Linked DNA regions of Homo sapiens. Changing the gene in region 4 together with the main gene of any one other region gives a genetic interaction. Each region holds a gene or a part of one and is shown on either strand. Other genes may lie near its edges.

Region 1 (3,084 bases), on a different chromosome or scaffold from region 4:
AAATAGGGAAAGGCACTTCCAGTTGTATTTAGTAGGCAGTTGTTGTGAATCATTTTTTTCTCTTATAGGAGGAGATTCCTCTCTAGCCATGTTTCTGTTAAAGTTTCATTAATTGAAGCCCAAGTTTACTTTTTACTGTACATACTTATTTTCTAATTGGATTTGAAATCAGCATGATTTTGTTTGACAAAGCAAAGTTTAAGATTGAGGTCAGAAATACTTTAATGGAGCAAAGACACATACCAACTTTACATGACGGTGTGAGAAATAGTCCTATAAACTGGTCTCTTCATCATTTATGCTCTCACTTTAGATATCCAAATATTAAAAGGCAGGCTGACCTGTATCACACAGAATTAAGGCAGTAATTTTCTGCTTCAGTAGATCAAGGGTAGGGCTAAGGCATCCTGTGGTAATTCTGATTCACAGCTAGATTTGGGAAACACAAAGTTAGGGAATGGCTATATGTGATTTGCTAGTTGGAGCAGTCAAAGTCTTAGCTATCAAGAGTTGTGAATTTGAATCATGGCACTAGGTCAGGGGTGCTATGGATTGAAATGACCTTAGTTCTCAAGGAGTGATTTGTCCTCATTTGTCAAATGAGGAATGAGACACTTACCATCATCTCAGGTTGTTTCTTAAAGACCTAAATACAAATACAATTTGTTAAAAACTTACAGAGGGCCTATTTTGAATGCTTTAAGATGTAGGCCAAGTAATGTATTTTTCTCTTAGTGTAGAAAGTTAAGAGAAAAAGAGCTGGTACCATAAATTTTTTCAATCTTAGTGTAAAATCTGTATCTCATTGTAGGCTTCTGGTCAATACCTATACATAACAACTTAATGTGATCTAACCAACTCAACTGATAGAAAGCTGAATTGTTCCCAGTGGACAAGTGGTATTTGATGTTTAGCAGGTTTTTTTGTTGTTATTTTTTTGGTAAACTCTGTGGTAAAATCTAAAATAATGTTAAAACCCTAAAAGTAACTATTGAATATTCTGTAATCTTAGACATGTATTTTTCAAGCTAACCCTTTGAAGAAATGTGTTCAAGGTAGGAAAATATAAAATTTTTTGGTTATTTGTAAATTTATTTTTTGTGTGTTTATATTTAATGAAAAGATGTAATTTCATTTGTGATAGCTGAAAAAAAGGCTTTCCATAATTAAGAAAATACCTTTATCAGTAGCTATGAACTCTGAAAAATAATTTTTAAAAACTTTTAAGAAAAAAACTACTTGAGTAAAATATTTCAAGAGTTGTTTAAAAATCTTCTTTAAAACCTTTACATTTCTGCCTCACTTCTTTTTTGGTAGCATTAGTTGCTGATGAAGGAGATTTACAACTACTTTCAACTTTTTTACCACTAAAGGTTTATGGTAAATATGGCAGAAACAATAGTTTATCAGTTTCATTAGATTTTCCATAAGATTTCTTTGTACCTTTATAGGAGTGCTGCTTGGGTTATTCACTACAATCACTTATTTCCTATCAAAGTTTAGCACTTGCTCCTGGAATCGTGTTGGAGCTGAAACCACTCCTATGTACACATTCCTATAAACCTTAATTGAATGAAAAGCTGAATCAGGTAGACTCTTAATATTTTACTCTTTCCTGTAAGGTGGGATTTTCCTGATAATCTTTGTTCAGTAAAAATTTCTTTTGTAGAACAGTTTGCTGAGCAGTATCTGGAATAGCAGGAAGGAAATTTGGGGCCTTAATGGGAAAGGCCATAGTGTGAAAATGTTTTATAAATTGAGTGCAATACGACATGGAGTATGATGAATGGCACTCCACTGCTTCCTAAAATCCAACACTTTTTTTGATACCTCCTTTTCATTCTTTTTTGCCTGGTTCTCAATTTCATTTTTTAATTACCTCATTGTCCTTCCCCTTTTTTCTTCTCTTTTTGTCCAGCCTGGTACCTAATAGCAAATATAGACATGATCTTACTGGGAGTTTCTGCCTAAAGTAGTCATCTTTCCTCTCGACCGTATAAAGAGCATGTATTCTGTCTATAACATAATCACCACACTATTACTCATAAGCACACATCAAAAGGGAAACAAGGGTTTTCTTTGAACTTACTTTTGTTTTGCAGATCAGGGAAACCTTGCCTCATTAAACAGAAAAAGGAAAACATTTTAAATAAAAAACATCTTATTACCTGTATCTGTGACAAGAGGAGGCATGACAACCTAAAAAAAATTTGTGACCAGAAAAATGTCCTGAGCAGTGATACTATCTATACCTTGGAAGGAGCACAGGTTAGAGAAATGTGGGGATGAAAATTGGGGAAGGTGAGCAGGCAGTTTAATCTTGCCTTCAGGATCAGGCTGTCAGTGTGACTTTATTACTTTGTATGAAGTATTATGAATTGCCCAAATGATAAATACACCCCCATCTAAATGTTCCAGAATGCATTCCACAGAGGAATTTGAGTGACTGAAATTTTTCCTCTTTCTTCATTGGTGTGGTTAAACAAAAATTAGCTGGGGATTAAGGGAAAATTGTGGCTATGTCTGATCATTCTAAATAATCATGACCACAAATAAATTGCCCTGAGTAGGTCTGTAACCTGGATTGAGCTGTCGTTACCAATTTTATCCATAGCTTCAAAGGATTTCTTCTTTACATGCTAGTTTGCTTAGATGAAACTGTGGAATTAAAAGCCACAGAGAAGGGACAACCTCAAGTCTGTCTCCTTTAATGTTAAGTATTTATAGACTTAATATTTGGGGACCACTGTAAGTTATGAATAAGATGGAAAGAGATTGAATATTTCTGTAGTGTTACTTCTTCGTGTTGTAAAAAGATGTAGAAAATTTTAAACTGAATAGCTGCTTTGCCTTTCCTTCCAGGAAAACTCAATTTGATTAATAGAATAGGGCAGTGGTCTTAGCTGTGGAATATAGGAAAAATTCAGGTAAAGTGTTTACGGGGTCACGAAGCAGAAGAAACACAAGACATTTGTGTTGTAGGGATCCTAATGTCTTTTATCATATAAATATTACACAAAGAAAACTTACATTAGGTATCAAAAAACTTTACAATCTGTACATTTGTTTTTTTCTTGCATTTCT
Region 2 (3,500 bases), on a different chromosome or scaffold from region 4:
TCTTCTCAGTTTTGGGATTTTGCCATTAGAAACCCCAAGTCCTGGAGATGGATCCTATTTACAAAACTACACTAATACACCTCCTGTAATTGATGTGCCATCCACCGGAGCCCCTTCAAAAAAGGTATTTTCCATGTAAAATGCAGTTTGGGAATTGATTAAAGCAACTTGTTTATTTCAATCTTTTAAAGGTAATCTCAGGGAAAATCTTACTTTATGTAATTGCTTTTGCCTTATATTTGAACCCAGCAGGTAGAGGGTGATCTAAATATAAAAGAATGTCATTATTGTTGTAGCCTCTTGGTTACAGTAGGAGACAGACTTCTTACTCTTTTGGCCAAGTAAGATTGTATCTCACAAATTTAGTTTATTTCAGCATATAGTTAAATAAACATAATCATATTTTTACTTTTTAATTTCCTTTTTAAAAAACAAAATTAATATTGTTTATATTACTTGACTATAAATAACAGAAATTATGTCTGCCATAGTTTTTACTTGTCCCTACCACTGTGTATATATGTTTTTTTAATAACACTAATAATTATATGAAAAAAAATTTGCTCAGGTAAAGCCAGATATTTCTGATAATAAGATTTTTGGTAGATCATGGATGTATAGTTTTAACATGAAAATGAAAAATATTTGGTAGTATACTTATAGTAAATATTGCGGCAAGTTTCATGAGGCTTTTTTTTTTTTTTTTTGAGACAGGGTCTCGCTCTCCTGCCCAGGCTGGAGTGCAGTGGTGTGACCATGACTCACTGTAGCCTCTACCTCCCAGGCTCAAGTGATCCTTCCACCTTAGCCTCCCAAGTACCTAGGACTATAGGTGTACACCACCACACCCAGCTAATTTTTTTAACTTTTATTTTTGTAGAGACAGGATCTCACTGTGTTGCCAGGGATGGTCTCAAACTCCTGGGCTCAAGCAATCCTCCTGCCTTGGCCTCTCAAAGTGCTAGGATTATAAACATGAGTCACTGCCCTGCTGAGGCTCTTGTTTTATAATGTTCCCTTTTATAGGTATATGGAAATAGAGGCCAAAATACCATTTTTAAAAAGCATATCTGTGGCACAAGGTAACTTCTGTGAGAATTAAATTAGGTTCTATATATAAAATACCTATTGCCATGCTTCATAAATATTCAAGAAATGGAAGCTAAACAAGTCATACTAATATGTGAATAACAGTTATACTCTCTTTACCTTAATAGAAACATGTTTCTTCTTATAGTTGTTTTTTTACTATTTTACTCCTGAACATCCTTAGAATCTGCAAAAGATTTTTCTATAATAACTCCTTAGTGAGTGATAATAGGAACTCCAAGAATACTTAAAAGGGACTGCAAAATAGTTTGTGTATGGATTGTTTTAAACATTACAGTTATGAAGAAGGCAAAACAAAATGGTAGTTAGCATGCCAGGTGAAGTAGGCCAAAACTAGAAGAGCCATAATAACCATAATAACCAGAGCAAGTTAAGACAGTGGGCAGGCACATGATTTTAGTGCCCAGATAAGATTGCTCTCTCATCCTCTTCTGCCTCTGTTCTCCTCTTACCTTATTACAAGACATTCCCAGAAAAGTCACGCATGTAGGTCTGCATGCAGTGTCAACTGAAAATATCAAACCAGGTATTGAGTGCAGTGTACATAGTTCTTTGATAAATAAGGAAAAGCCAGAGTTGACTTTTGTCCCTTGGATGAATGTAGTGATCCCAATTTGGAAAAGGCGGAGGAAGGCTTATGAAGTTTTATTTTGAAGTGGTGGTACATTAGATGAAAATATTCAGTAGAAAGTTAGTCATAGAGGAAAAAATGTGACCTGCTGATAGAAATAATAATTGAAACTATTAAAATGACCAGGCTCTCCTAGGGAAAGAAAGAGTAGCTAAGGAGAACAGAGTAAACCTAATTTAAAAATAGTAGAAGGATAAAGGGCCAGCAAATGAAGTGGCAGGACAAATAATGTAATGTTTTGGAAGTAACACAAAGTTTCAAAAAGTAGGGCATGATCAGTGATGTTGAATGCAGGAAAGGCTAAAATAAGGTTTTAATATCTGATGAGACAGTGATTATTAGTGATTATTTATAATATGCAGTTTGAGGATTGTGTACAGGACATCAGGGTAACAGTAAGTTTTGAAGAAAATTCTCTGGTAGCCAAAGGGGAAAAACAGTGCACTGATACAATAGTCATAGATCATTTAAAGAAGCTAGATGGTGGAAATGAATAGAAATAAGGGAATAAATTAGAGAAGACTGAAGAGCCAAGCAAAGATTTTTTTTTCTCCAAGGGAACAGAAACCAATTAATGAAGATTAGAAAAACTAAGCAATATTAACTCTAAAGAACAATATCCTTAGGTTTTGGAAAGTAATCAGATGGTTGTTTTTTTAAAATCTACTCCTCTGAACTCCTTTAGAACTGTTACCAAGTGCCAAAGGAGTATAAAATCTTATCGTATTATTATTTTTTTCTGTGTATAATGAGATAAATCATAAATCTTGAGAATTTAGCTGTCTTAAAATTTTTTAGTACTTAACCCCAAATAGAGAAGGTATGTAATAAATGGAGGATGGTCACAATGAGATGAAAAGAATAGCTTCTGGGGATTTTTAGTCTTTGAAACAAAAAGCGAAAGATGAAAAGACATTATAGAGGTAAAAATACTGTGAGATTAAAACAGGGAAATAGACTGATGTTCATACTAATACAACAATAATTAACAATATGATATAAATAGTTTATCTTTAAGGTGACAGTATATTATGGCTGCTTGTATTGAGAAAATGTAGATGGGAGCGTTGTGTTGTCTTTTATCATTTACAGTGCAGCCCATAATTCACAAACCTTAGACTTTTCGTGTTTTACAGTCTGTTGCCAGAATCGGCCAAACTGGAACAAAGTCTGTCTTCTCACAGAGTGGAAATAGCCGAGAGGTAACTCCAATTCTTGCACAAACACAAAGTTCTGGTCCACAAACAAGGTATTTATCATTGTAATTATTCAACTTTTCTTGGCATAAAACTTGATTCTTTACATTTCTTTAATTTAGGCAGATAGTGACTCTCGTGGATTCTAGAATAACTACTGTAAATTTTGAAGATGTAAAATTTGAAACCTCTAACTTACAACACTAATGTAATTTTGAGTTGAGTTTTGTAATGCACAGAAGACAATAGTTAACTAAAGCAGCATTTTAGTTTACTCTGATTGCCTCATGGATTTGTAATTTTCTTCTTATGCACATGACCCTTTCTATAGTTTAGGTACAGATAGGTTTCATACTCCCCTTCCCCACATTATGCATGTCTATAAACAGATTATAAAAATAACAGACAAATAAACTTCAAATAATGAATCTATTTCCACACAGAAATGGTGTTAGATAGGATTTTCTTTTCCTCTTCAAGGACTCAATAGATTATAGCTAACATTTTAAAAGGAAGATACAATTTTCTTTCTCCTTTCTAAAACTGTGAACATGTACCTAAAT
Region 3 (4,104 bases), on a different chromosome or scaffold from region 4:
TGACTCTGGGCATTGTCAAATGACCTCACCTCCCCTATTTCTTCACAGCAAACTAAGAATAATAATCTCATTCACATGGGACCATTGTGAGGAGTACGGGAAATAATGAATATAACTGTGAAATAATGCTTTGTCAGGTATACTGTGTTTTGGACGATAAGATATCTGAATCAAGAGTTTGTACTTCCAGTCTACATTTTGATGCCACGTTGGGCAAATCTCCTTACCTCTATGGTAGTCATCACTATTTTTTAAAGCTAGGAGATTATCTCAGTTCCTTTTAAAACAGCTTTTATAGAAGGTGGTTGAGTTTTCCACTGGAATTTCAAAGTACTCCTCATTTTTATATCCATACCCATAGTTGTTTCGTTTTCCATTAGCTTTTTTAAAAACTTACTAATTGAGGAACAGAAACTTTAAAATTCATTTGTGATCAACGCAGCAATGTCCAAACATAAGCAGGGTTAAAACAGCAAAATTCTCCCACCTATCAGAGAAACTTTAATTTTTTTTTTTTTTTGCTTCGTTGTTTTTATCTCGTATAACGGAAAGACAGAACTCATATTTCAGTCTTCTCTCTGTTCTTAGCTGTAATCCTAGCAAATCGAATGACCTCTTTACACTGGCCAATTATTCATCTGCCAAATAATAACAGCCACCACTGATCACGTGGGAGCTTACCCAATGCCATGCGTGCACTATGTTCTGAACGTGCACACCAGGCGATCTCTCTCATTTAGTGCTCACAATTTTGAGGTAGACATTAGCTCCATTTAACTGATGAAAAAACTGAGGCTGAACGAAGTTAAAAACCCATCATGCAGCATCTGCAGAGCGGCGGTTCTAAAAACGCCTCACAGTAAGAAAGAATTGCTAACAAACAGTAGCTTTGCCTCTAAGCACCCGCTTTTCCTCTAATATTCACAGACAGGTATTTAGAACGTTAAAGAGCCGGAAGCCCTTGGGAACTTCAGGGCGGGAGTAAACCGGCTGCACCTCTCAGAGCAACTCCTCCGAAAAACCCCACCCTGTCCAGGCCCCGCCTCGTCCCGCCCTCCTGGGCGCTCTCCCCATAGCCCGCCCAGGAGAAGCCTAGTCCACCCGGCTCTCCCCCGGCTCTCACAGGCGGAAGCCGCCGACCACCCAGCCTGCCCTTCTCGCGGCAGGACTTAGCGCATGCGCTCTCAGCACGCCGGGAATTTCCTGTCCGCGGTCATCGCTTCCGGTGGGATAGGTCTGACCAATGGGGCTGACTCCGAGGCGGGCCTTAGGTCTCGCAGGTTCCTCCCCTGCGCGTTTCTTTCGGAGCGGCGGTGAAGGTCCTGGGTGAGGTAGGGTTGGATGGTGCTTGCCGCGTATCATGGCTGCCTCCGGAAAACTCAGCACTTGCCGTCTCCCTCCGTTGCCCACGATTCGAGAAATCATTAAGTTGTTAAGACTGCAAGCAGCGAAGCAGCTATCACAGAATTTCCTCCTGGACTTGAGGCTGACAGGTGGATGGCTTAGCAGTGCTCCCCGGATGTCTCCCCAGTGTCCGTGGGGGCGTGGGCCGGGGGGTCTTGCACGTCCCCGCGGGCGGGTGTCCAGGCACTGGCGTGCGACGGGCTTTTGGTCAGGTCCTTCGACCTCTTTGTATCAGAACTCCGGTCCCACCGCCCAGGAGACACGTGAAGTGCGTTGATTGCTCACAAAACTCCGCGTTCGGGGGGGTGTAGCCTGCCGGCAGGCTGCATAAATGCCAAGCTCCCTAGGGGAGGAAGGGTTCATGGGTCGTGAAAGGCGCTAGTGAATATTGGAATCTGGGTCACTGTGAAATCAATCATTCTGAAATAGTACAGCACATGCTGACTGCAGTTGCTTTACATGCAGTTTAAAGTTACCAGAATTTAAATTGATGCGAGGATTTTATCAATAACTTGGTGAAAAGAGTATCCCTCGTATGATTCGTTTTTTAAACGTTTACCTGTTCAGTCTAAGCCTCGGGGGCGCTAATATTCATTCATAAGTACATATTACACAAGCAACATTGTGCTAGTGCCGGGGGTAGGATATGGGCGTGAACAAGGCGGTGTTTCCTCGAGGAGCTTACTTTTAGCAAGTTTACATTCCCACACCTAATTGTTTAAAGTTACTTTTTATGAGATATAATTTATGTGCAATAAAATTAATAAGTTTGAAGTGCTCAATTTGATGAGTTTTGACGAATGTATTTATATATTGGTTTAACCACCATCACCATTGCTTAGTGATGTTCTATGAGATGAGGTTGCAAAAATATATTACAAATACGTCTACTAAGTCACGGCTGGAGTACTTAGGTTTTGAGATTTTCATATTTCATTCTATTTAGTCCCACTTCAGAAGTTGAAAAGAGCAGTAAATCACACCCAAAAAGTTCATTTTCACTTAAATGAAGCACACTCCAGAAAACATAAAATGTTTTATTTCTTGGACATGTAGTCTTTATTCTGCCTGTACCAATATGACTTTGGATAAAATAATTTAACTCAAGTTTTCTCTTTTTTTTTTTTTTCTTTTTTTAAGATGGAGTTTCACTCTTGTTGCCCAAGCTGGAGTGCAATGGCATGATCTCAGCTCACTGCAACCTCCGCCTCCCCGGTTCAAGTGATTCTCGTGCCTCAGCCTCCCAGGTAGCTAGGATTACAGGCGTGAGCCACCGTGCCTAGCTAATTTTGTGTTTTTAGTAAAGACAGGGTTTCACTATGTTGCTCAGGCTGGTCTCAAACTCCTGATCTCAAGTGATCCACTCGCCTCGGCCTTCCAAAGTGTTGGGATTACAGGTGTGAGCCACCATGTCCAGTAGTTTCCTCATCTTTTAATTGGAAGAAGGGCCTACTACTTTAAAAGATTGCCCACTCTAAAATTCTTTGGTTCTAGTAATAGCTAGTACCAGCCTTTTCTGCTTGTTATTAGCCACATTCTAAATATAAATCACCATTCTCAGGGCAGAAGTTATAGGTCTGTGTATTTTTTAAAATCCTTCAAATACATTTTCTCATGAGCCTTTATCTTCAGGAGTAAGTTTCAAATTCTAGATATTATCCACTCTTTCTATGGGAACCAGAGTTAACGGAGATGAGGGTACTTAGCTGAGGTTAGAAGCTCAGGCAGAAGAGAGCAAGATTGAAATCCAAGCTCATTGATTTGATAGCGCTTCTTTAATATTCATTTGTATTTCAATGTGCCTGAAAAGTTTGAGAGCAGAGACCTGCCTACTGTTGTAGCTCTCCATTTTAAAGAAGGAGAGTATTAAATTTATTCCATAATGTATCATTCCTGTTCCCTCTGAGAGGCATTGGCTTTAGGATTTATACCTATGTTGAAGTCCATGACCTTGTACAAATAAAACAATAGACAAGGAAACTGAAAAGTTAAGAGAAATGAAATTGGGATAGGAGTCCTTGGTTAACATGTAAGGATTAGGTGAGAATGTGTGTAAATCCATCATAATAGATAAGATGGTCAGTGGATGCTAATTCCCTCCCTGTTAAAAGACTAAACCATTTTTGGATGGCTGAGAAACTAGTTTCCGCATTTTAGCTGACAAAGTTATGTTGTTGAAAACAAGCAAAAATAGGACTGTGAACACCTACAAGAAGTGCTGGTATGTTTTTAGTGACTAAATTTCCACTATCCTAGGAAGACCAGTTCCTTGGATTTCCATATCTCAGAATCACTAAGACCAGCCCATTGCATGTTTTTCCAGATGTGATGACTGGTTGCACAGAGTCAGTACTCTACCTTTTTATGATGTCTTAAGGGCTGCTAACTTGAATTTGATTAATTAAAAAATTAATTTTTCTGTATTAACATGCATGTGTGCAAAGCTTTAAAAACCCTCAACTGCTCAATTTAACTTTTTCCTGAAAATGACTAAGAATTCAAATTTCTGAAAATCTTACGATCTAAGAACTTATTGCCATTGCCATAGTGACCACCACCAAGATGTCTCTAGATAAAAATAAGACTTCAGCACTTTTTGCTTTTGGATTTCACTAGCAATACTGAAGATTCTGAATGTGAAACTAGTATTGCTTATTCAGATATTCAATGTTCAATAACTATAGAAAAGTGCTGCATTCT
Region 4 (3,500 bases):
ACCTCTCATGTAATTAAATCCAGATTTGAACCGTGGGCTCCAAGTGCAAAAGGCCAACAATCTCAATAATTGTAGCTCATTAAGAATTTAGGAAAACGATCTATTTCAAAGGTAAACAAGACAGTAGTCACCTACAGCTCATGCTTCTTTTACAGGACATGGAAAGTGTGTGATTTGTGTTTATGATTAGAAACTTTGCAAGGGTCACGTGTGGTTCTGCACATTTTTCTAACATTCTTTGATTTCAGATCCATGTCTACTTGTGATTGAACATTTACTCTGTATATCTTTAGTTTCTATCCTCTACTTTCTGTACTTTGGGTTTTCCTCTTACAGCATGTCTTTGGTTTTGTTTACTATGTAGCCATCATGATCAATACTAGTTTAATAGGTAACTTGATTTGTTTAGTATTTTATTGTTTAATCCTAGAGGAAATTGTTTAATCCTAGAGGAAATCATTGTTTAATCCTAGAGGAAATGCCTCTACCAAGAAATGCTTGGGGCTTTTAGCATTTTTTCATTAACCTTTTCTGTAAAATAGTGATAATCCACCTTATGAATGGGGGATATTTCTAATTGTTATTCTGTGACTCCTTTGTGTTGTGGGAGGGGCAGATTAAAATTGATATGGTATATTCTGAAACATGACTGCAATTAATATGTGAAATCTGGCACATGGAAAAGAGGCCTAAATGGAGAATCATCTTGATGTTCTTGATCTGTTCTGATGTTTGTAAAGTGTTATTTGGCTTCTTTATGTTCCTTAAATGTTAAATCTTAGAGAATAAGAAATGGATTCTTAAAAAAAATAATACATTGGATGAAAATGTGGTTGGTCACATTGTATTTTCAGTGATGAATGATAATTTAGTGGATTCATTGACCTGCTTCTAGATTTTACCATAACATACATATGTTTGTGTGTGTGTATGTATACATAGATATATAGAGATATAGAATGTGTATGTCTCTCTATATATATCTCTATCTCCTTTCCTTAAGCCATCAACAACTCTTAGCTGAAAGAGGGATAAGGCCCAAGCAAGGATAGAGAGAGTAGGTATACACATAATTTCTGCCTAATGTCTAGATTATTCTTTTATAAACTATTTTTTTACATTTAAAAAAGTTACCTGTGTGCGTCTTAAGTAATTTAGTTGACTTTCTTTGTATGGTTTAAATATATTTTAACAAACTAAGGAACTTGAACTATTTAAAATATCTTCAATATTTGAATCTTAAAATGTAGCTTTAGAATTGTACAAAGAAACATATAAAGTAGTATTAAAATTTGAGCAAATGTGTTCTGTATCTTTTTCAATAACATTTTTGAAAATGTGGTTTTATAATGGTCTTACCAGAATCAGTGATTGGGGTGTGTTTAACTGTCTTTAAGTTGATAATAAATCCTATGAAATTAGACTTTTTAGAAATAGTTAAATGAATCTGTGTTAGCATGACTGTTTAACTCTTTCACATTTCCCCTGGGTATTAAATATAAATTGATTTGGGGTATAAATTAGTAGACAGCCTGTTACTGAAGGTGTGTTAATTCAGCATAAATGAGCTGTGCCTGGTTTTAGGTTATGGGAAGCTGGCTGGAAGCAGCGGTACTACAAGAACAAATTTGATGTGGATGCAGCTGATGAGAAATTCCGTCGGAAAGTTGTGCAGTCGTACGTTGAAGGACTTTGCTGGGTTCTTAGATATTATTACCAGGTACAAAAAGAATATTTTCCTCTGAATTTGTAGTTAATCATTTAAGAAAAATAGTAATTTCTTTTTTTTTGTTTGTTTTTTGTTTTTGAGACGGAGTCTTGCCCTGTCACCTGGGCGGGAGGGCAATGGCGTGATCTCAACTCACTGCGACCTCTGCCTCCCAGGTTCAAGCGATTCTCCTGCCTCAGCCTCCTGAGTAGCTAGGATTACAGAGCGCACCACCACACCCGGCTAATTTTTGTATTTTTAGTAGAGACGGGGTTTCACCATGTTGGTCAGGCTGGTCTCAAACTCCTGACCTCGTGATCCGCCTGCCTCAGCCTCCTAAAGTAGTGGGATTACAGGCATGAACCACTGCGTCCAGCCCAGTAATTTCTGTAATAATAGTATTATTGAGCTGGATCTTGAAAACAAACCCAGGCTCATTTTTTAAAGCTCCCTATTCAGAAGTCCGTATTTGTAAATATTTGTTTCTGAAGACGTGGAAGTTTCTTAGATATTAATATAGAAACAAAGCTAATTTTTGTTAAAAGTATTTTCAGGATCAAGTAATGTGGTTGACTGCACTTTGTCTTTAAGATGACGAAAGGTTAGTGCTTTTTAAATTGGAGTTTAAAAATAACTGAGTAATGAATTGACAGTCACTGAATGACTGAACAGAGGACAAACCCTGGAAAATACAAATAAGAATTCTAAAGGAATTTGAATGCTACGCTTTTCATAATATAGTGATGATACATGAAGCACATTCTAATTGGAATAACCTGTATCCTACCTTTTGATAATTGAGATGTCAGATTGGTGAGAGATTAGGTAGACATATTGAGGACTGTAACACTGATAGTTAATATCTGGTTTCGTGCTTAGAGAGCAAACCAAGTTAAATTTGGTGTGACCTGGGAATAGATGAAGTTTGTTGACAAGTAGAAAGTAACACAGTGCACTGAGTATTGACCGTTAAGTACTCTGTTTGCGTTTTACTCCTACTGTCAAGATTTCAACTCACTAGACACTGTCTTAACACATCTTAGATATCTCTTTCCTATGAGTATAACTTGCTTTTGTTTTCTTTTTGCTGTGTTTACTCACATGTTTTTATAGTCAAAAGAAACTTGTCAGGTGAAAATATAATGGTGAATTTTAAAATGAAACTCATGGCTGTTTTACTTTCAACTGCTGTTCCAATAATGTCTCTAACCACCTTACATGCTCAGTAAATGTCTGCTGTGACTGCTTTTGGTTTTACTTGATGATGACAGCTCTAGAGATGGAAAGAAATGTCACCAAATGTATTTTAAGGATAAAAATCTTACCAAATTGTGTTTGTGAATATGAAGTTTGGCAGTAACTACTGATTTTTCAAAGATGCTTTGTAGCATTTTTAAAGTCAAAGAGCCATTGATATGAATTAGAAACTTCAAACTTAAGGAATTTTTAGGAGTCATGGAAAAGATCAGTATTTGGAATATATGCCAGAAGTCATGTGTTTTATAAGTAGAATATTATAGGTTAACAGTCTAATTTTTGTTTTTTTTAATTGTGTTCATCATTAACATAGGTTTTTGATTTTGTTGTTACTTTTTTAATGATTCTAGGGCTGTGCTTCCTGGAAGTGGTATTATCCATTTCATTATGCACCATTTGCTTCAGACTTTGAAGGCATTGCAGACATGCCATCTGATTTTGAGAAGGGTACGAAACCGGTAAGCTTAATTACTTAAAGTCATAAAGTTTATAGAATTCTGGATTAGATAATAATCTTGGGTCTTTAATGTTTTTT
Region 5 (3,973 bases), on a different chromosome or scaffold from region 4:
GAAATAAGGGATAATCCTTGGCCAAATTGTCAGAGGCATTTGAAGAGTAACCCTATCTTGAATAGGGGCTGGGTAAAATAACACCGAGACCTACTGGGCTGCATTCCTAGGAGGTTAGGTATTCTAAGTGCCAGGAAGGGATAGGAAGTCAGCATAAGATACGGGTCACAATAGACTTTGCTGACAAAACAGGGTGCTGTAAAGAAGCTGGCCAAATCCCACTAAAACCAAGATGACAAAGTGACCTCTAGTCATTTTCACTACTCATTATACAGTAATTACAATACATTAGCATGCTAAACGACACTCCTACCAGCGCCATGACAGTTCACAGATGCCATGGCAACCTTAGGAAGTTACCCTATATGATCTAAAAGCGGAGAACCCTCAGTTCCCGGTATTGTCCACCCCTTGTTTAGCATATAATCAAGAAATAAGTGTAAGTATACTCGGTCGCCCATGCCCCTGCTCTGCCTATGGAGTAGGCATTCTTTTATTTCTTTACTTTTAATAAACTTGCTTTCACTTTATGGACTCGCCCTGAATTCTTTCTTGCAGGAGGTCCAAGAACCCACTCTTTGGGTCTGGATCTGGACCGCTTTCCCATAAGAAAAAGAAGGAAGGTAACTAACTTTGACTGAACACCTGATACGTGCTAAATGATTTCTCAGACAAGATCTTATTTAAATATTTCTAAATGATTTGATGATAATGTTAATGGCCTTCTGGCCCCCAAAAGCACACTGCCTCTTGGTCCCAAATAAATGAGGAAAATATCCAGTTTGTGGAATAGAGGGGCAGGTAAGTAAAAAAAGAAAAAGAAATGCAAAGAAGGAAAGATATACATGAAAAAAATGTCATACAGAGATAATCAGCTCTTTTCCAACCAACCAAAGTAAGAGTTCTTTTTTAACTGCGCGGTTACAACTAACCAAAACTCAGGAAATAACTCCTGGAAGCAAACAAACTTAGCAGTGAAAAACAAGCGCGTCCAGTAACACCAGAAAAACACGTGGCGGGGGTGGGGCATCTGGTCGCAACCGCAGGTGAGACTCTAAGTCCCATCATTCCCTTCGGCAGCCAAGCCAGGCTGTTGAGGGCGAGCCGGCGCACCGTACGCTGGGACGTGTGGTTTCAGCTCGTGCGCCTCCCCGTGGGTTTGCGACGTTTAGCGACTATTGCGCCTGCGCCAGCGCCGGCTGCGAGACTGGGGCCGTGGCTGCTGGTCCCGGGTGATGCTAGGCGGCTCCCTGGGCTCCAGGCTGTTGCGGGGTGTAGGTGGGAGTCACGGACGGTTCGGGGCCCGAGGTGTCCGCGAAGGTGGCGCAGCCATGGCGGCAGGGGAGAGCATGGCTCAGCGGATGGTCTGGGTGGACCTGGAGGTGAGTGAGGTCGGCGGGGGGCTTGGGGAGGCGAGTGAGGTTTCGCTCGTGGAACCGAGGAGTCGAGCCCGTCCTGGGAGAGCGTTGGGGGTCTGGGTCTCAGGTGTGGCAGGTGAGCGCGGCCGGCCACGGGCGGTGCAGGGCAAGTCCGGAGGCAGGAGTCCTGCGGGTGTTGGGCGCCGTGCTGCGCTGTAGGGCTTCTTTCCACAAGGGAGGAGTCCTCCGTGTGGCTTCTTCTCCTCCCTACCCCTCCGCCCAGATGTGGACTTTTCCTAACGCTCTGGCGTCTCTGGGCTTGGGTCACTGGAGTGGGGGCGGGGGCAGCGGCTCTGTTCCCAGCTTCCCCCAACTAAATCCTTAAAGGACCCTAGGTTGTTAGGGCCAGACGGGACTCCGGAGATGACTCAGCCTTACCCCTCATTCCATAAGTGAGAACATTGAGGCCCACAGAAAGGATTCAACTCATTCAAGGTCGTGCTGTTAGTGAGAGTCTGAGTTGAGACCAGAACCCAGTTCCTATCCCTTCAGGCTTTCCATGCCCGAAACAAGGGCTCCTCCCACCGTTGAGCCTCAGTTTATATGAAGTGAGGATAATAACAGTAGTTTTTCCATTAGATTGTGAAGGTCCAGTGGTGTAATTAATGTGAAAACTTTGTAAACTCTGCAGAGACGTGGTGGTGGTAGTTATCCAACTCTTCCAAAACTGAGTGATGTCAGCACTCAGTTTTACTTACTTTGCATCTGTCCCGGAGTAGAATCTCAGTGCTTGACAAATAGCAGGCCCTTGGTAAATGTTTGTTGAATAAACGAGGACTCGTGTTTAGTACCTTCAGTAGTTGCCCGAGGAGCATTCTTTCTCTTCTGTTTCGGCTATGGATTACAAGCTGACTATGTTTGAGGGAATTCCTGTTAAATAAACTTGGGTAAAAGAGGCCAGAATGATGGCTTTGTGTGTGTTATATATTTATTTTTAATTGCAGATGACAGGATTGGACATTGAGAAGGACCAGATTATTGAGATGGCCTGTCTGATAACTGACTCTGATCTCAACATTTTGGCTGAAGTACGTGATGCCATGTAATACAGTCATACTTTTTAAAGGGCACTGGAAATATAACCATCATTTTTTCCAGCTTCTTTATTTAAAAAATAAGAAAGTTGAGGTCTATATGGGTTAAGGTAATGTGCTAGGTCATGGTAGGGGTGGTACTAGAACCAAAGTAATCCATCTCACAGCCTAGTGAAAATTAAAAATTAAACATTATTTTTTAATTAACCATGCCAGAAATTTACAGAAACATAAATTCTGTCGTTTACTGAGCGCTTACTGTATGCCAGCTACAGTTTCTGTGTGCTTTATATGTCTTTGTTCTTAGTTCTCACAGCAACTATAAGTTAGTTATTGTTATAATGCTCATTTGATGGATGAGGACACTTGAGCATAGAGATGTTGGGTAATTTGTCTGAGGTCCCAGTGGCTGTTTACTGGGGGAGCCAAGAGTTTAACTCAGGCTGTCTCAGTAAGGTGCTCCTAACAAGTAGGACAGCCAGCTGTCCTCCCATCAGATTTGGTGACTCGTGCCAATGTTTGCGTCTTTATATCATAACCTTGACTTTAACTTGACTCCATATTTACAATTCTGCCTTTTCAACTAGGACATGTGATTCTTCTAGATCAGTATTAAGATTTTAGAATTTCTGTTAGTGCACACCCGTAAAGTGTTCTGTTGTTGACAGATTGGGCATGATTAAGGTTTTTGCATGCTACTTCCAACTGAAACATTTAGCAAAACAAAACACACCTGCTGCATTTCAGCCACTCATGAAACATTTAATAAGGATGTGACACCATCTGGTAGGGGGTGAAATCCCTGACCCTGAATAATTCTGTTTTATACTGTCAGCAGTATTCAGAGCCAGAAACTCCAGAATAGGAACAAAGTAGGGATGTTTGTGGAAAAGAGAGTCTTGTTAAAATAAGTTCCTAGAGGGTAGCATTGATATGTTACTGGCACTGGATACATTTCGTAAATCTGCAGTTAACACTTTTGTTTGTTTTGCTGTGTAGGTAAAAGAGGTGAGGACGTATTTCTAGATTAATGACTGCGTTTGTGGAGTACCAGGCTTATCCTCCCCACATATCAACTGTAGGAGAATCATGAGACTTTGTACTTCTCATCATAACAACTTTTTTAACTTTGTATAAATAAAGCCCTGAGTTTTAGATTTGGTTGTTTTTTTCTGTTACTTGGGATTTATTGGAGATCAATAGTGAAGAGAAGTGTCTTTATTTTACCAGTCTAACTTACCCTTGGCCGAAGAAGAGTGTTTCCTTTAGACTGTTGATATAATGTGAAATACTGACAGTTTAATGGACCCGTAGGTTGATATGTACCCTGGAGGAAATTTGGGTATGTATTCACACAGCTGCAGATGAATGCAGCATTTGTAAATGGACTAAGTCAGATGAGGATAAAGATGTTAAAAAAAAAAAAAAAGCTTAGGGGCTATCAGTTCTGCAGTATGTTTTATTCTTTTATAAGAGTCTGAGAAAAATGTTTTATGCTGGTAGAAGAGCAGGCATCCTACT
Region 6 (3,500 bases), on a different chromosome or scaffold from region 4:
TGAATTTTTTTTGGTTAAAAAAACAAAATTTGCCATCTGTCATACTCTATAAAAATACCAATAATAAAAATCCTGTAAGGAAAACTAGGAAACTATAGTCTTATGTGGGGGAGACTTTTCAGCATTAGAAAACTGGAAGCTATAAAAGAAGAGATAGCTGTTTGCCTTTTCAGATGCTGAAACTTTGTAAATGGTAAAAGACATTTAAGTCAATTGAAGAACACCAGATTATGAGAAAATATGCAGTGCAGAGGAAAAATAACATTTAATTGTGAATTTCATATTTAGGAACTCATAAATAAAAATTAGCCAGGCCTTGTGGCACATGCCTTTAGTCCCAACCACTCAGGAGGCTGAGGTAGGAGGATTGCTTGAGCCTGGGAGGTTGAGGCTTCAGTGAGCCGTGATTGTGTCACTACGCTGCAGTCTTGGTGACAGAGCAGGACTTTGTTTCCAAAACAAAACCCACAATGAGATACTATTTCACATCTGTTAGGATGGCATCCGTTAAAAGATAAAACAAAATAACAAGTGTTGACAAAGATAGGGAGAAACTGGAACCCTTGTACACTGTGGTGGGAATGTCAAATGGTGCATCTGCTATGGAAAACGTTATGGCGGTTTCTCAGAAAGTTAAAGAATACAACTATCGTATGTTCTAGCAGTCATGCTTGTGGGTATATACCCAAAATAATCAGGAGGAGGATTTACTTGCACACCCATGTTCACAGCAGCCTTATTCATAACAGCCAAAAGGTGGAAGGAACCAAAGGCTCCATCAGCAGGTGAATGGATAAACAATGTGGTATAGACATACTCTGGGATGTTATTCTGCCTTAAAAGGGAAAGAAATCCTGTCCATTGCTACATGGATGTACCTTGGAGGACATCATGTTATATGAAATAAGCTGGTCACAAAAGGACAAATACAGTTGATCCTTTGTATCCGTGGGCTCTGCATCCATGAGCTTAACCAACCACTGATGGAAAATATTTGGAAAAAAAATTTTTTTTAAATGACAGTACAATAATAAAAAAATATGAATTAAGCCCGACGTGGTGACGCACACCTGTAATCCCAGCTACTTGGGTGGCTGAGATGGGAGGATGGCTTGAGCCCAGGAATTTGAGATCAGCCTGGGCAACATAGCAAGACCCCTTCTGAAAAAACAAAAAAAAAAAACAAATTAAAAAAATATAATCTAATTACTTACATCCGTAGCAGTTACATTGTATTAGGTATTAGGTAATCTAGGGATGATTGAGAGTATGCAGGAGGATGCATGTAGGTTATATGCAAATAAAATGCCATTTTATATAAGGGACTTGAGCATCCTCGGAAATTAGTGTTGGGGAGTGGTCCTGGAACAAATCTTCGTGGGTACGGTGGGACTACCCTATTGCATTCCACTTACATATAATTGAAGGCATATTTTTTGATGAGTAAATATTATGTGACTATCTAAAAGAAAAGTTACTGTTTAAAAACATAACTGTAGGGCCGGGCACAGTGGCTCATACCTGTAATCCCAGCACTTTGGGAAGCTGAGGTGGGTGGATCACCTGAGGTCAGGAGTTAGAGGCCAGCCTGGCCAATATGGTGAAACCCTGTCCCTACTAAAAATACAAAAATTAGCTGGGCATGGTGGTAGGCGCCTGTAATCCCAGCTACTCGGGAGGCTGAGGCAGGAGAATCACTTGAACCCAGGAGGCGGAGGTTTCAGTGAGTCGAGATCGCACCACTGCACTCTACCCTGGGCAACAAGAGTGAAACTCCGTCTCAAAAACAAAAACAACAACAACAGCCACAACAAATGTAACTGTAATGGTATACCTTCTCCAGAAAAGCATACCAATTCTTTAAATATTACCAGAGATCCACATCCAGTCAGGGTTCTGATTTCCCTCAATGCTCTCTTACTATTGTGTTTTGTTTTGTTTTGAGACAGGGTCTCGCTCTGCTGCCCAGCCTGGATGGTGTCCAGTAGTGCGATCATGATTCACTGCAGCCATGACCACTAGGCTCAGGCGGTCCTCTCACCTCAGCCTCCTGAGTAACTGGGAGTATAGGCGTGCCCCACCACACCCAGCTAATTTTTGTATTTTTTGTAGAGTGGGGGTTTCACCATCTTGCCCAAGCAGGTCTTGAATTTCTGATTCTGATCTCAAGCGACCTACCCGCCTTTGCGGCCGCCATTGTACCCAGCTCTTTTGTTTTTTAAAAAAATATGGGCTGAGATGGGGGGATCACTTGAGGCCAGGTGTTCAAGACCAGTCTGGTCCAACATAGAGCATATCTGTACAAAAAATAGAAAATCATAGCCAAGAGTGGTGGCACAAGCCTGTAGTCCCAGCTACTCTGCAGACCAAGGTGGGAGGATCTCTGGAGCCCAGGAGTTTGAGGCTGCAGTGACCCATGATAAACGGCACTGTAATCCATCCTGGGCAACAGAGCTAAACCCTGTCTCAAAAAAAAAAAAAAAAAAATAGTGGGCTGGGCACGGTGGCTCACACCTGTAATCCCAGCACTTTGGAAGGCCGAGGTGGGCAGATCACCTGAGGTCAGGAGTTTGAGACCAGCCTGGCCAAATGGTGAAACCTCGTCTCTACTAAAAATACAAAAATTAGCTGGGCATGGTGGCAGGGGCCTGTAATCCCAGCTACTCGAGAAGCTGAGGTGGGAGAATTGCTTGAACCTGGGAGACAGAGTTTGCAGTGAGCCGAGATCATGCCATTACACTCCAGCCTGGGCCACAGAGCGAGACTCTGTCTCAGAAAAAAAGTGTGGTAAAAAGCACATCATAAAATTTACCTTCTTAACCTTTGTTTTGTTTTTTGTTTGTTTGTTTGTTTGAGACGGAGTCTCGCTCTGTTGCCCAGCCTGGAGTGCAGTGGCGCCATCTTGGCTCACTGCAACCTCTGCCTCCCAGGTTCCAGCAGTTCTCCCACCTCAGCCTCCCGAGTAGCTGGGATTACAGGCGTGTGCCACCACGCCTGGCTAATTTTTGTATTTTTAGTAGAGATGGGGTTTTACCATGTTGGCCAGGCTGATCTCGAACTCCTGACCTCAGGTGATCTGCCTGCCTCAGCCTCCCAAAGTGCTGGGATTACAGGCATGAACCACTGCGCCTGGCCTTTTTTTTTTTTTTTTTTTTTTTGAGGTAGAGTCTCGCTTTTTCGCCCAGGTTGGAGTGCAGTGGCACCATTTCGGCTCACTGCAACCTGTGCCTCCTGGGTTCAAGAGATTTCTCGTACCGGTTGGGCACGGTGGCTCACACCTATAATCCCAGCACTTTGGGAGGCCGAGGTGGGCGGATCATGAGGTCAGGAGATCGAGACTATCCTGGCCAACGCGGTGAAACCCTGTCTCTACTAAAAATACAAAAATTAGCCGGGCATGGTGGCACTCTCCTATAATCCCAGCTACTCGGGAGGCTGAGGGAGGAGAATCGCTTGAACCCAGGAGTCAGAGGTTGCAGTGAGCCAAGATCGCCACTGCA
Region 7 (3,500 bases), on a different chromosome or scaffold from region 4:
AAGAAACAAGAGTTGGCCAGGCGCAGTGGCTCATGCTTGTAATCCAAACACTCTGGGAGGCCAAGGCTGGTGGACTGCTTGAAGCTCAGGAGTTTTGAGACTAGCCTGGGCAACACAGTGAGACCCCATGTCTCTACAAAAATATAACAAATTACTGGGTGTGGTGGCATGCCTCTAGTCCTAGCTACTCAGGAGGCTGAGGTGGGCGGATCGCTTAAGCCTGCAAGGTAGAAGCTGCAGTAAGCTGAGATTGCACCACTGCACTCCAGACTGGGCGACAGAGTGAGGCCCTGTCTCAAAAAAAGATGACAAGAGGAAAGAATAAAGAGTGAGCCATATGTTGCTAACATTCCAGATGCTGTGATGAATTTACCTAAAGATTCCATTTATTTCATAAACTAACAATTTACTAGGGAAAAATTCTACTCTACTCTAAAAACATTAAGTCCCCCCCTGCACCCTCCTCCTAAACCACTTGGATTATACAGTGAAATCACAATAAATATCATCTCATTTGAAGCCTTTCATGAAATGTAAAAAATGCCTTAACAACACCCAAAAGAAATTAGCTTCAAATTAAATGGGAAAGTCAGGAGAGCATCTAACTAGGTTTATGCAGCCTGGAAAGAGTTAATGTTAGCATAGAACTATATTTTGAACTAATGTACTAATACTATACTACAGTATAGTAATGCAGTCGGAAGTTTTTTTTTTTGATGGGCTAAGGAGTTACACCATTGTGTCAGTATTATGCTTAATTGACAGGCAGCCCAAATGCAGACCCCGTCATGGAAGATTAACTTAAAAGACTCTCTCAAAACACTAAAAAAGCCTCTGAAGATTTCACTCACGCACCAACTGCTAAAGCTCTATTGTCAAAATCAGCTCTAACTTTAAGAAAAAGTAAATTTAGGCAGTTGACTGCTTCAAAACCAGTTTTTCATCTTACCCGATTCCCAACATGACGCCTGCGAGTAGACATGGGAGAATGGCTGTGGCTGTGCCGTCTACGATAATCTCGACTGTAAGACCTGCTACGTGATCGTCTATGGGAGCGGGAGCGAGACCGTGACCGGGTATAATGCCTTCGGGAGCTTCTTCTGGATCTAGACCTGCAAGACAAAGACCTCCTAAGGTTATGACTGAAAACAAATATTGTCTTCTTTATTACTCTGTTCTAAAGTTAAACTCCAAAAGAGGGAACAATCCAGGAATATGCTAACATGGTTACCAATTTAGTAGGATCAATACTTTTCTTCTCTAATTATTTAGTCATTTCAACTTTGCTAGGAAGCGTTCTAAAAACCACAAGCTCTCCTCCAGTATTTCTTCCAATTAAAGACATATTACTTATCTTTTACAAATCAAGGCACGCAGCATTTTACTAGCTTGGCTTGTGCCCATCTTTCCCCCTCAGAAGACCATTCTCTACTTTTCTGTCTCCCATTATGCCCACCATTAATTTAATACAGTAACAAAATCACAAGGAGTATTCCCCAGCAGTTAAAAAAACAAAAAATTGAGTGGCTCTTGACTAACTAGAGTGACTCTAAATTGTCATCGAAACGAGGACACACATTTAAGAAAAGGGGTGCTGTTAATTATGCCTGACCACAGGCATAAATGGTATCGCCCCAGGCAAACCAGGATGTATATATAGCCTACTTTTGACCAACATTAAAAAAAAAAAAGCGCACCATATATATACTTATTTATCAAGAATTCTAATTACTGAAAGCCAATGTTCTGCAGTATATTTGCCATACTAGTAAGCAGTTTACTTACATTTAGTAAATCCTCACAACAACCCTGAAGAACTGGTACTGTATTACTAATTTGCCTTTTATAAAGAAGCTAAAGCTGAAAGGTTAATCTGCCCAAACCAGCAAAAATAGAAAACCCTGACTCCAAAAGCCCAGGCTCTTAACCGCTTTTAGTCTTGCCTCCCAGAACTTAAGTTCACTTCTAGTACCAATATTTAATAGGCCAACAAATAATCTAACCCTCTCTACCTTCCTGGTTTACAAAACACGCACCAATTTCAGAGCTAAGAGTAACGAGGAAATCTCAAGACAGTCTTTCTTACCTAGATTCAGATCGGGACCTGGACTTTGATCTGGAACGCCTGGAATCTTCCTTGGAGCGAGACCTTGCAGGGGTATGCCTTGCAGATTTCCCCGATCCGTGAGCACTTCCACTTCTGGAAGCAGAACGGGATTCCTACACGTAGATGTTAAAAGTTTAATTTGCACACTTTCTGGGCAACTTTAAAAACAAATAAGCTGCTGTGAGATAAATGGTGAGGGACAGCAATCCCCTTCCAAGATAAGAAAATATAGGTAAGGGCAGGAACTGAATATACCTGGTGTTAATAGTTTCATTGCTCCAAATGACATAAGTCAATTAACTTGTCCTTTCTTCCACCTTTTTGGAGCAGGGATAAGAGTTATTTGACCCCACTTCCTTCAGAAAGGGGTGCCAAAGTCAAGCAGTTAAGGGAACTGTCCAAGGACTGTGTTTCAGAATGTTACTCCATAAAGACTAGGGTGAGGCGGAACCTTATTAACTATGACACCTATACTTTATACCTATTTCAATCAAGTTGCAATCAATAAAACAAAATCCTATATAATTTATATAATTTACTTAAAAAAATGCTTGATTTTTAAAAAGACCTTGACCTTTCAAGTTACTACTTATAATTCAGTGATAAGAGATAAAGATGATGATCTCAGTTTCAAATCCTAGAGAAAAGCAGAAACCTAGTGGAAAGCAAAGGCTAGCTTGAAGGACACTAAACCCTGTAAAACCCTATTGCATCTAACCATGGTGGGAGGCCCCCTAAAAAACTGAAAGCAACCAGATGGAGCTACAACAGAACAGCGAACTACACACAAATAAGAGTAGAGAGGGTGTCAGAGATCCTCCACAGCTTCTCCAGCTAAATGGAGATGAGCCAGGGCAAACTTATGGAAAACCAGGAATTAACCTAACTTACCTAGTTACTTAAGTACACATCAAAACCAGGCAGCTAAATCAGGAGCTCCTAACCTAGGGCCCAGGAAGCAAAAGAGTACAGAAACTACATACAAAAGCCAAAGTTTAGGTAAACATTGTGTACTCATAGCTTTCCCAACCAAAACTGGGATTGGCTGGCAGGTTAAGGGGGGATTTGTAATGAAAAATAGCAAAGGAATGGTAACCAGGATAACTAGGTCACCAACGAGCTAAAGACACATAATCAACAAAAGGGTATACTAAGTAATGAAACCAAGGAAAAGTTCTGCCAAGGCACCAAAACAGTAGATGAGGAAAGGACAGAACCTACTCCTAGTCAGTCTGATAGCTAGGTAAAATTATCAAGGCAACCTTTATTTTAGGTTATCAAACTTAGACAAAGTAAAGCCTGGTAAGCCTTTCTACTCCAGAGAGCAGAAATGGCAAGACTCAAAAGGAAGCAGTATTACAGTAAGTCACTATATGGCATGAATCAAAGGTGA

What was found.
Region 1: changes in XRN2 (region 4) and FAM98B together harm fitness less than expected from each alone (positive genetic interaction), as found in Homo sapiens cells (one large-scale study listed by BioGRID).
Region 2: changes in XRN2 (region 4) and CDC27 together harm fitness more than expected from each alone (negative genetic interaction), as found in Homo sapiens cells (one large-scale study listed by BioGRID).
Region 3: changes in XRN2 (region 4) and TFB1M together harm fitness less than expected from each alone (positive genetic interaction), as found in Homo sapiens cells (one large-scale study listed by BioGRID).
Region 5: changes in XRN2 (region 4) and REXO2 together harm fitness more than expected from each alone (negative genetic interaction), as found in Homo sapiens cells (one large-scale study listed by BioGRID).
Region 6: changes in XRN2 (region 4) and NUDC together harm fitness less than expected from each alone (positive genetic interaction), as found in Homo sapiens cells (one large-scale study listed by BioGRID).
Region 7: changes in XRN2 (region 4) and TRA2B together harm fitness more than expected from each alone (negative genetic interaction), as found in Homo sapiens cells (one large-scale study listed by BioGRID).

The regions. Positions count from the first base shown.
Region 1 is NC_000015.10:38,485,127-38,488,210, forward strand, and holds the end of FAM98B (protein FAM98B), read left to right. Parts: 3' UTR 1-2,584; downstream 2,585-3,084. UniProt on the Homo sapiens protein: Positively stimulates PRMT1-induced protein arginine dimethylated arginine methylation.
Region 2 is NC_000017.11:47,151,296-47,154,795, reverse strand, and holds part of CDC27 (cell division cycle protein 27 homolog), read left to right. Parts: exon of another isoform or gene 1-9; coding exon 10-124; intron 125-2,859; coding exon of another isoform or gene 2,860-2,877; coding exon 2,878-2,990; intron 2,991-3,500. UniProt on the Homo sapiens protein: Component of the anaphase promoting complex/cyclosome (APC/C), a cell cycle-regulated E3 ubiquitin ligase that controls progression through mitosis and the G1 phase of the cell cycle.
Region 3 is NC_000006.12:155,311,685-155,315,788, reverse strand, and holds the start of TFB1M (dimethyladenosine transferase 1, mitochondrial), read left to right. Parts: upstream 1-1,304; 5' UTR 1,305-1,360; coding exon 1,361-1,493; exon of another isoform or gene 1,494-1,672; intron 1,673-4,104. UniProt on the Homo sapiens protein: Mitochondrial methyltransferase which uses S-adenosyl methionine to dimethylate two highly conserved adjacent adenosine residues (A1583 and A1584) within the loop of helix 45 at the 3-prime end of 12S rRNA, thereby regulating the assembly or stability of the small subunit of the mitochondrial ribosome.
Region 4 is NC_000020.11:21,344,831-21,348,330, forward strand, and holds part of XRN2 (5'-3' exoribonuclease 2), read left to right. Parts: intron 1-1,003; coding exon of another isoform or gene 1,004-1,052; exon of another isoform or gene 1,053-1,063; intron 1,064-1,584; coding exon 1,585-1,720; intron 1,721-3,315; coding exon 3,316-3,423; intron 3,424-3,500. UniProt on the Homo sapiens protein: Possesses 5'->3' exoribonuclease activity. May promote the termination of transcription by RNA polymerase II.
Region 5 is NC_000011.10:114,438,294-114,442,266, forward strand, and holds the start of REXO2 (oligoribonuclease, mitochondrial precursor), read left to right. Parts: upstream 1-1,173; 5' UTR 1,174-1,235; coding exon 1,236-1,382; intron 1,383-2,362; coding exon 2,363-2,446; intron 2,447-3,973. UniProt on the Homo sapiens protein: 3'-to-5'exoribonuclease that preferentially degrades DNA and RNA oligonucleotides composed of only two nucleotides. Binds and degrades longer oligonucleotides with a lower affinity.
Region 6 is NC_000001.11:26,928,243-26,931,742, forward strand, and holds part of NUDC (nuclear migration protein nudC), read left to right. Parts: intron 1-3,500. UniProt on the Homo sapiens protein: Plays a role in neurogenesis and neuronal migration. Necessary for correct formation of mitotic spindles and chromosome separation during mitosis. Necessary for cytokinesis and cell proliferation.
Region 7 is NC_000003.12:185,924,515-185,928,014, forward strand, and holds part of TRA2B (transformer-2 protein homolog beta), read right to left. Parts: intron 2,221-3,500; coding exon 2,087-2,220; intron 1,113-2,086; coding exon 950-1,112; intron 1-949. UniProt on the Homo sapiens protein: Sequence-specific RNA-binding protein which participates in the control of pre-mRNA splicing. Can either activate or suppress exon inclusion. Acts additively with RBMX to promote exon 7 inclusion of the survival motor neuron SMN2.